Linked DNA regions of Homo sapiens: all the other regions are linked to region 2. The links come from fine-mapping of genetic effects on gene expression. A gene starts in region 2. Each other region holds a variant in brackets. All regions are shown on one strand. Distances are between the middles of the regions.

Region 1 (2,500 bases), 200 kb before region 2:
GACTATCTTGGGCAACAAAGTGAAACCCCATCCCTACAAAAAATACAACAATTAGCCAGGTGTGATGGTGTGCCCCTGTGCCCCTGTATTCCCAGCTACCCAGGAGGCTGAGGTGGGAAGATATCTTGAGCCCAGGAGTTTGAGGCCGCAGTGAGCCAAACCACTGGAACACTGGGGGAAGTGACAGATTATTAAGATGAAAAGGAGTAAGCCAATAATGAATCTAGAAAGAAAATCTTTTCCTAGATAGTTTTTAGGGGACTTGAAATAAAAAACAATTTTTTTTTCTTTTTTTGGAGACAGGGTTTTACTCTGTTGTCCAGGCTGGAGTGCAGCAGCATAATCATGGCTCACTGCAGCCTCAACCTCTTGGGCTCAAGCAATCCTCCCACCTCAGCCTCTCAAGTAGCTGGGACCACAGGCATGAGCCACCATGCCTGGTGAATTTTTAATTTTTTGTAGAGACGGTATCTCACTATGTTCCCCATGCTGGTCTTGAACTCCTGGATTCAAGCAATCCTCCCGTCTTAGCCTCTCAAAGTGCTGAGATTACAGGCATGAGCCACCATACTGGGTCCAGAATAAATTATCTTTAAAGAAAAGTAGGGTCATAAGCCAGAGAGAATAAATACACATGTCATTGATAATTAGAGGTATGAAACTGTGGGAAAAGAATTAACAAGAGTCATCTACCATAGAGAAGGAAGCAGCTGCTTGTTCCAGTAATCCCACAAGTCCTGACTCAGTAAAGTATTTTCCAGAGCAGATACCTTCTTCATCTGGAGATACCACATCATCTGAGACCGCAGATTCTTCTAAAACATTAGATGAAATATTCTAGGGAAAAAATATATTGAAAAGGTTTTTGAAACAGAATTTTCTAGCATAAAAATGTATAAGAAGAAATAACTGAAGATGAACTGTAACTATCAGGTTAGGTTAAAAAAAGGAGAGTGATATAAAGGTAAAAGATAAA[T/C]CTCTAAAAACTTTCTGTATTTTGAAGATGATAATAAAATGAAAACACCATTGCTAGATAACTTTTCTCTTAATAAAAAGTTGTATGAAAGAAAATTAAGAAAAATCATGGGCTAAAGGAAATTGTAATATAACATAAGACATCTAAGGAGACATCAATAGTCTTTCTTATTTATTTAATTGATCTTTTCAAAACTCTCTGTAAAGGAAAAAGGGTACAAAAATGGTCTCTTGACTTATCTAATGTACACGGAGTTAATGAAAAAAGTCAGGTATAATAAAAGCCCTCTTATTCAATGAGATTGGAATCAGCCATTATTTCTAAAAAAGAAATGATACATACATACCCTATTTTATTTTAACCTAAACATTTACAGTAGATGTACACTCATTCATCAACTTTTGAAGTAGATCTAAGGCCTTTTCTTTGTGTGTATGGGTTTCCAGATCAGATTTCCACGGAATCTCTTTTGGGTAAATACCGATAAGGCAACACTCTTTTTAAAGATTTCAAGTTTTGGTTTCTTTTGAGTGAAAACTTAAAAGATTATCAAATTATTCTAGAATTTTAGGAGTTTCCCCTCCCCCAATCTATTTGTCTGGCCCACAGTTAATTCAACAGCAATTGTTTTGGAGATTCACCTTTCCTGAGTCTTTGTAAAACATTCAACTTTGTTTTCCGAGAAACGATAACTTTCTTTTTGCATTCTGATTTCATCAGAAGATATAACATTTAACTAAATTTTATAATATCTCAAACCTACTATTAACAGGTTTTGAAGAAAAGCAAAGCATAACTGACTCTTGGTAAGCAGAGAATTCAACTAGTGGGTCAGAATTATGTACCCTACTAGAGGGCAAACTCATCTGTGAGTCATGGTATTAGTCATAAAATAATCTAATATTTTATGTAGGGAATAGAGAATGTTGGTATATCTGCTATGTGAAGTAAAAGCCAATTAAGAATTTCTACTGAATTCTGATTATCAGTAATACATTTCCATAGATGTTAAAGTATGTAACGGATTACAAGGCAGTAAAGACAAAGAGAATAAATAAGCATAGTGCTGATAATTCAGAGGTAAGAAACTGTGGAAAGAGAATCAACAAGAAGTACTCCTTAAAAATGTATTAATGACAATCACTGTGAAATGTTAATTCACCTTGTGAAGCATTGGCTTAAGTCTTTAAGCTTTCCTTATAAACTAAAAAAATCTAAACACCAGTGAGAAAAGCTAAAACCAAAAAAAGATATACCTTGATTTAATGTACATCTGGAAGATTCCTACCTGAAATGTTACACATCCCACAGGAAGATATTTCCGGTCCTCCAGCATGCTCAAATATTCAGCAACAAGTGCTGCTGAGTGGACTAGACACTGTGCAGCTTCAGCATGATTGCTTCGTTCTGAGTGCTTGCCTGCCATGTTCTGCAACCAGGTCAATCGCAGATCTGGAGAGGTCTGGTAACCCTTGGCAATTCTAATTAGAACAGAAATTCTTCTCCATTAGTATGTGCTTCCCA
Region 2 (2,810 bases):
AACTACAACTGCCCCAAAACAAAAAAAGGTAATTTAATATGAATGCTTCTTTTCTTGGGACATCATAATTCACACAAATATGATTTTATTAAAACAAAAATGTCTACTGTCTCATACATAAGTATACTCCACAAAGAAATTCTACAAATATTAGAGTCCTCTGTCATTTAATTTTTATTTGGCGGGTGGGAGAAAGGTGGCAACCAACCACCACAAGTAGGTGAAAGGCTTTGAAACCTCCACCTCAATCACTTGCTTTACTTCAAGACTGCAATCACTTGCTTTACTTCAAGACTGCTAACATATAAAAGGATGTCAGTGTATAAAGAACACTGCCTATCATCCATCTTCTCGGGTGCTCTGAGAAACACAGGCGCACAGTTAAATTCACAGGCGAACTCAGAACAAGCTTCAGCCTGCAATCCGTCAGGGATTCGGCAGCTGCACACCGAAGGTGCAGCCCGCAGCTCTCAACTTTTCATTCTGTCCACACGTTTTCAATCCTGGACGCACAAGTCCACTTTGAACCTGGCCCGAGGGTGCAAAGAGGGTTCCTGTCAGATTTCTCAGGAAGAGAGAGACGCGTGAAGGAGGGGCGGCCTCCCACCCGCCCCGAGCCGCCGCGCGTTTCTCCTTTTGTTGGGGTGGAGGAGGGCGGACCCCGCACCCTCTAGGGGCCAAGAGGGGTGGGCGGAGAGACGGGAGGGGGCGAAACGCCGCGGCGGCCCCCGACGAGCCCGGGGGTGGGAACACAAAGAATTTGGGAAGCGGCCGACCGCCCTTCCATAAACCTCCGCAGAAGTCCAGGCCCGGGCCGCCGAGGAGCAGGAGGAGGCGGGCGCGCTGGAGTCCGCGGCCCTCTCCGCTCCCTGCCGAGGCTCAGCGGCGGGCGCGGGCTGAAGGCCGGGGTTCGAGGGCGGCGCGAGGCCTCCGCTACCCCCTCAGCCACCCCGAACCCCTTCCGCCCCGCCGCGAGCCAGGCCGCGGGATCCCGGTGCCGGCCCCGCCACACCCACCCGCCTCCTAGGCCAGGCCTGGGAGGACTCCGCGGCTCTTTCTCGGGCGGCGGCGGCGGCGCGCCCCACGCCGGATATTTACCTGCTGATCTTCTGGGCGAAGGCGCGGCGCTCGGCCATGGCTGCTGCGGCGACGGCGACGGCGGCGGCGGCTGCGGCGGGCCGGGTGCGGACCGGCGGGCGCGTGCCTCCTCGCTCGTGCTCCCTCCCTCGCGGCCTCCGCCAGTCCGGGCTCCGGACCTGGGAGGCTGGGGCTGGCGGCCGGAGCCAGGAACGAGCCCTGCCGTAATGTTCCTTAGAGGCGCGCAACGAGAAACCGCTCCTCCCCCAGCGCGTCAATCCCGGCGGGAACCCCGGCTGCGGAAGGCGGCTGCGGCCGGCGGGAGCCGAGGGGAAGAATGGAGCGCTGAGGAAGCGAGGCGCCAGCCCCAGCCGCTTCGCTGCCGCGGAGCCTGCACGACCGAGAGGTCGCGGAGAGAAGCCAGAGACAGGCCAGCGACCTGGCGAGGCAAGAAAATAAGATAACCGAACGCGTAGGGGGAGCTTGGCTTTCCCGAAATGGAAGGGAAGGAAATGAAAGGTGGGCTTTGCCGAGGGGGCTGTGCTTTAACCAAAGCCCTGGATGACTGGGTTCATGTTTCTGCAGCACCGGTCTCCGAGCTTTTTAAAGCACTTGGGTTTCTGCTTCGGCCTCATGAATGCAGCCTAACTGGAGAAACAGTGGTTTTTCTTATAGAGAAAGAGCCAGAAAATACCTTGCTCCTGCAGCGATAACAATAGTAATAGTTGACTTCTGGTGCTTAGCCAGCCACTGGATTAAAGTTTTTCAAGCACGAGCGCTTTGAAGTAGATCGTTACTATCACTATTTTAGAGGGAAGGAAATTGGCTTGGAAAAGCTAAGTGACTGGCCCCAGGTCGCACAGATGGTAAACTCTTCCACTGAGACTCAAACCCAGAGCCGGTTCTTTTCTTTGAGGACAGTTGTTTCCGTATTATTAACCCCTTTTGGATCTCTCTCTGTCTCTCATACATACATATATATATATATATATATATATATATATATATATATATATATATATATAAAATCCAGGTGAGCTCTAACGTTCACCCCCATTTTGATGTTCTGTTAAATAAGCTCTGTGTTGACCACTGAAACTGACCTTGTCCATAATAGCCTATAAAACAGAGACTAGCAGAGATTTGTTTTCATCTGTTCTGTTGTAATCCCATAATGTCTAGAATATTTGGCTCCTAATGCATATCTGTTGATACTGAAATTATGGTGACACTAAGAAAAATATCTTGGTTTCTTGTAGTACCTTTCCTCTTAAGTATTGCAAGAACTTAAAATGTGTATTTATTTATTGTTATTATTATATTCTCAGTATGTCCTGGTGGAATATGTTGGATACCTGTTTTCCTCTCTTTTACCATTGGAAAATCTGTAGCTTGGAGCCATTAGGTCACTTGCCAGAGTCACACACTGAGTCAGAGGTGAAAGCCTCAATTAGTCAGATCCATAACTTCCTGTCTAGTGCTGTAACTTCTGTGGAAGACTGTGTATTTATATAACAATGCTCATTGCAGTAACACACTGCTTTTATTTATTGATTTATTTATTTTAGACAGAATCCCCCTGTGTTGCTCAAGCATGGAATGCATAGGGCACTGCAGCCTAAAACTCCTAGGCTCAAGCAATCCTCTTGCCTCAGCCTCTGGAGGAGTAGCTAGTACCACAGGCTCTTGCCAAGGCGCCCTCCAGTAACACACTGTTTTCAGATGCTTGTTTA
Region 3 (2,500 bases), 230 kb before region 2:
TTCCTAAACAATACAATATTAACAACTATTTACATTATATATTAGGTATTTTAAGTAGTCTAAAATGATTTAAAGTATACAGGAGGATGTACATAGGTTATATACAAATACTACACCATTTTATATAACATATTAAACTTGTCTTCAGATTTTGGTATCCACAGAAGGCACACTGATGGACAATTTTAGCAGAAAACTTGTGCCAATGTATTGAACACACACACACACACACACACACACACACACACACCCTCCAAGTATTTTTCTTTTTTTCTTTTTTTTTTGAGACAGGGTCTTGCTCTTTTGCCCAGGCTGAAGTGCAGTGGCACGATCTCAGCTCACTGCAGCTTTGATCTCCTGGGCTCAAGGGATCCTTCCACCTTAGCCTCCCAATTAGCTGGGACTACAGGCGTGCACCATCATGCCCGGCTAATTTTTGTAGTTTTAGCAGAGATAATGTTTTGCCATGTTGCCCAGGCTGGTCTCAAACTTCTGAGCTCAAGCGGTCTGCCTGCCTCAGCCTCCCAAAGTGCTGGGATTTACAGGCATAAGGTACCACACTGGCCAAGTTTATTAATTCCTGGAATAAATGAAAAGTTGGGTTATAAAATCACTAAGTTTTTAGATTAAAAGATTAAAGGAGATGCAGAATAAAAGCACTTGATAACAAACTTTTAAAACCTGTCATATTAAAAACTCTTTGCATAACTACAAATAGGTGGGTAGTCCTTTAACCATAATTAAAAATCTACAAAAAACCTGTAGCAAACATACTTAGTGGTGAAAACCCTTTTAGAGAAGGAACAAGAAAATGATGTCCTCTCTATTCCTAGTCAACAGAGTACTGGACGTCCTAAATATCATTATAAGACAAGAAAAAGATTCTACAGATAAATTATTAGAATTAATAAGTCTATTAAGATAATAATTCTAATAAGATAAATTATTAGAATTAATAAGTAAGTCTGGTAAAATTCTCATGTAAAAGTAATATATAAAGTTAACTGCAGCTGGGCACAGAGGCTCACACCTGCAATCCCAGCACTTTGGCAGGCTGAGACCAGAGGACTGCTGGAGCCCAGGAGTGAGAGACCAGCCTGGGCAACATAGTGAGACTCTGTCACTATAAAATTAGGTATAGTGGTGAACACCTGTGGTCCCAGCTACTTGGGAGGCTGAGGCAGGAGGATCGCTTGAATCCAGCAGGTCAAGGCTGCAGTGAGCCATGATCACACCACTGCACTCACTCCAGCCTGGGTGACACAGTGAGACCCCATCTCAAAAAA[T/TAAATAAAATA]AAATAAAATAAAATAAAATAAAATAAAATAAAATAAAATAAAATAAAATAAAAGTCAACTGATTTTTGGTAGAGCAGGAAACAGAAAACACAATTTTGAAAGATAACATTAAGGCCGAGCACAGTGGCTCATGCCTGTAATCCCAGCACCTTGGGAGGCAGAGGCGGGCGGATCACCTGAGGTCAGGAGTTCGAGACCAGCCTGACCAAGATGGAGAAACAGCATCTCTACTAAAAATACAAAATTTGCCAGGCGTGGTGGCACATGTCTGTAATCCCAGCTACTTGGGAGGCTGAGGTAGGAGAATCGCTTGAACCCAGGAGGCGGAGGTTGCAGTGAGCCGAGATCTTGCCATTATACTCCAGCCTGGGCAACAAGAACAAAACTCATCTCAAAAAAAAAAAAAATTAATAAAATCATAAAAGCATTATATACTAAAGAATAAATTTTAAAATGTACAAGACCTCTACACAAAAAATTTAAATAGTATTAAGAAAACATTTAAAAGACCTAAGTAAATGGAAAAATATACCATATTCATGGACTGATGTCAATTCTCTTCCAACTGATCTATAAATTCAGGTTATTTTTTGGGTGCATGGAGTGAAAAATTGATTCTAAAATTTAAAATTTATATAAAATTGAAAACAGCCAAAAACAGTCCTTCAACAAAACAAGGTGAGAGGAATTGCTCTGCCACACGGCAAAGCTTATTATAAAGCGGCAGTAGTTAAGAGAGCATGACATTAGCTGAAAGAGAGATAAATAGAGTACTGTAGGAGAATAAAGATCCCAAAAACATAGGCACATAAACACGGGTGCTTAATTTATAATAGTGATGACACTGCAAACCAGAAAGAAAGAAATTTATAATAGTGATGACACAGCAAACCAGACTTTCACCACAAACCTGTGAATGCTTTTTAAATAAGTGGTAATGAGTCAACTGGATATCTGTAAGGGGAAAAAAAACCTAAACCATATCTCATACCATATTCAATAAATGGCACTGAGATCATTATCAGTTATCAGTATGGACAAAAATCAAACTGATCCCTACCTTGAACCATACACAAAAATCAATTGCAAATGGATTTTTTTTTTTAAGAGATAGGGTCTCACTACGTAGACTTGAACTTCTGGCCTCAAGCCATCATTCTACTTTGGCCTCCTGTGTAGCTGGGATTACAGGCACTCACCGGCTCTTGCAGGC

Direction of the effects. Alleles are on the strand shown, and positions count from the first base shown. SD is a standard deviation of normalised expression in the study named.
As copies of T replace C in region 1, the expression in CD4 T cells of the gene that starts at base 1,258 in region 2 goes down (moderate effect, 0.57 SD a copy in BLUEPRINT).
As copies of T replace TAAATAAAATA in region 3, the expression in NK cells of the gene that starts at base 1,258 in region 2 goes down (moderate effect, 0.66 SD a copy in Gilchrist 2021).

The links. PIP is the estimated chance that this variant, and not a neighbour inherited with it, causes the effect. A credible set is the group of variants that fine-mapping cannot tell apart.
Region 1: its variant is the best candidate, but not a certain one, in a credible set for the expression of DOCK7 in CD4 T cells (BLUEPRINT, PIP 0.58).
Region 3: its variant is the best candidate, but not a certain one, in a credible set for the expression of DOCK7 in NK cells (Gilchrist 2021, PIP 0.85).

Annotation. Positions count from the first base shown.
Region 1 is chr1:62,492,011-62,494,510 of GRCh38, forward strand. It overlaps DOCK7 (dedicator of cytokinesis 7), which reads right to left. Exons shown (of 50, transcript NM_001367561.1): 40 at 2,265-2,457; 41 at 694-837. Among named protein-coding and RNA genes, the nearest start is that of USP1, 56 kb to the left of the region's middle. The variant T/C (reference allele first, on the strand shown) is at 977.
Region 2 is chr1:62,687,129-62,689,938 of GRCh38, forward strand. It overlaps DOCK7 (dedicator of cytokinesis 7), which reads right to left and starts at 1,258. Exons shown (of 50, transcript NM_001367561.1): 1 at 1,099-1,258. The coding sequence starts at 1,136. It overlaps DOCK7-DT (DOCK7 divergent transcript), which reads left to right and starts at 1,354. Exons shown (of 2, transcript NR_185999.1): 1 at 1,354-1,524. RefSeq lists a silencer at 611-1,360 and an enhancer at 2,370-2,664.
Region 3 is chr1:62,460,391-62,462,890 of GRCh38, forward strand. All of the region lies in intron 48 of DOCK7 (dedicator of cytokinesis 7), which reads right to left. Among named protein-coding and RNA genes, the nearest start is that of USP1, 25 kb to the left of the region's middle. The variant T/TAAATAAAATA (reference allele first, on the strand shown) is at 1,287.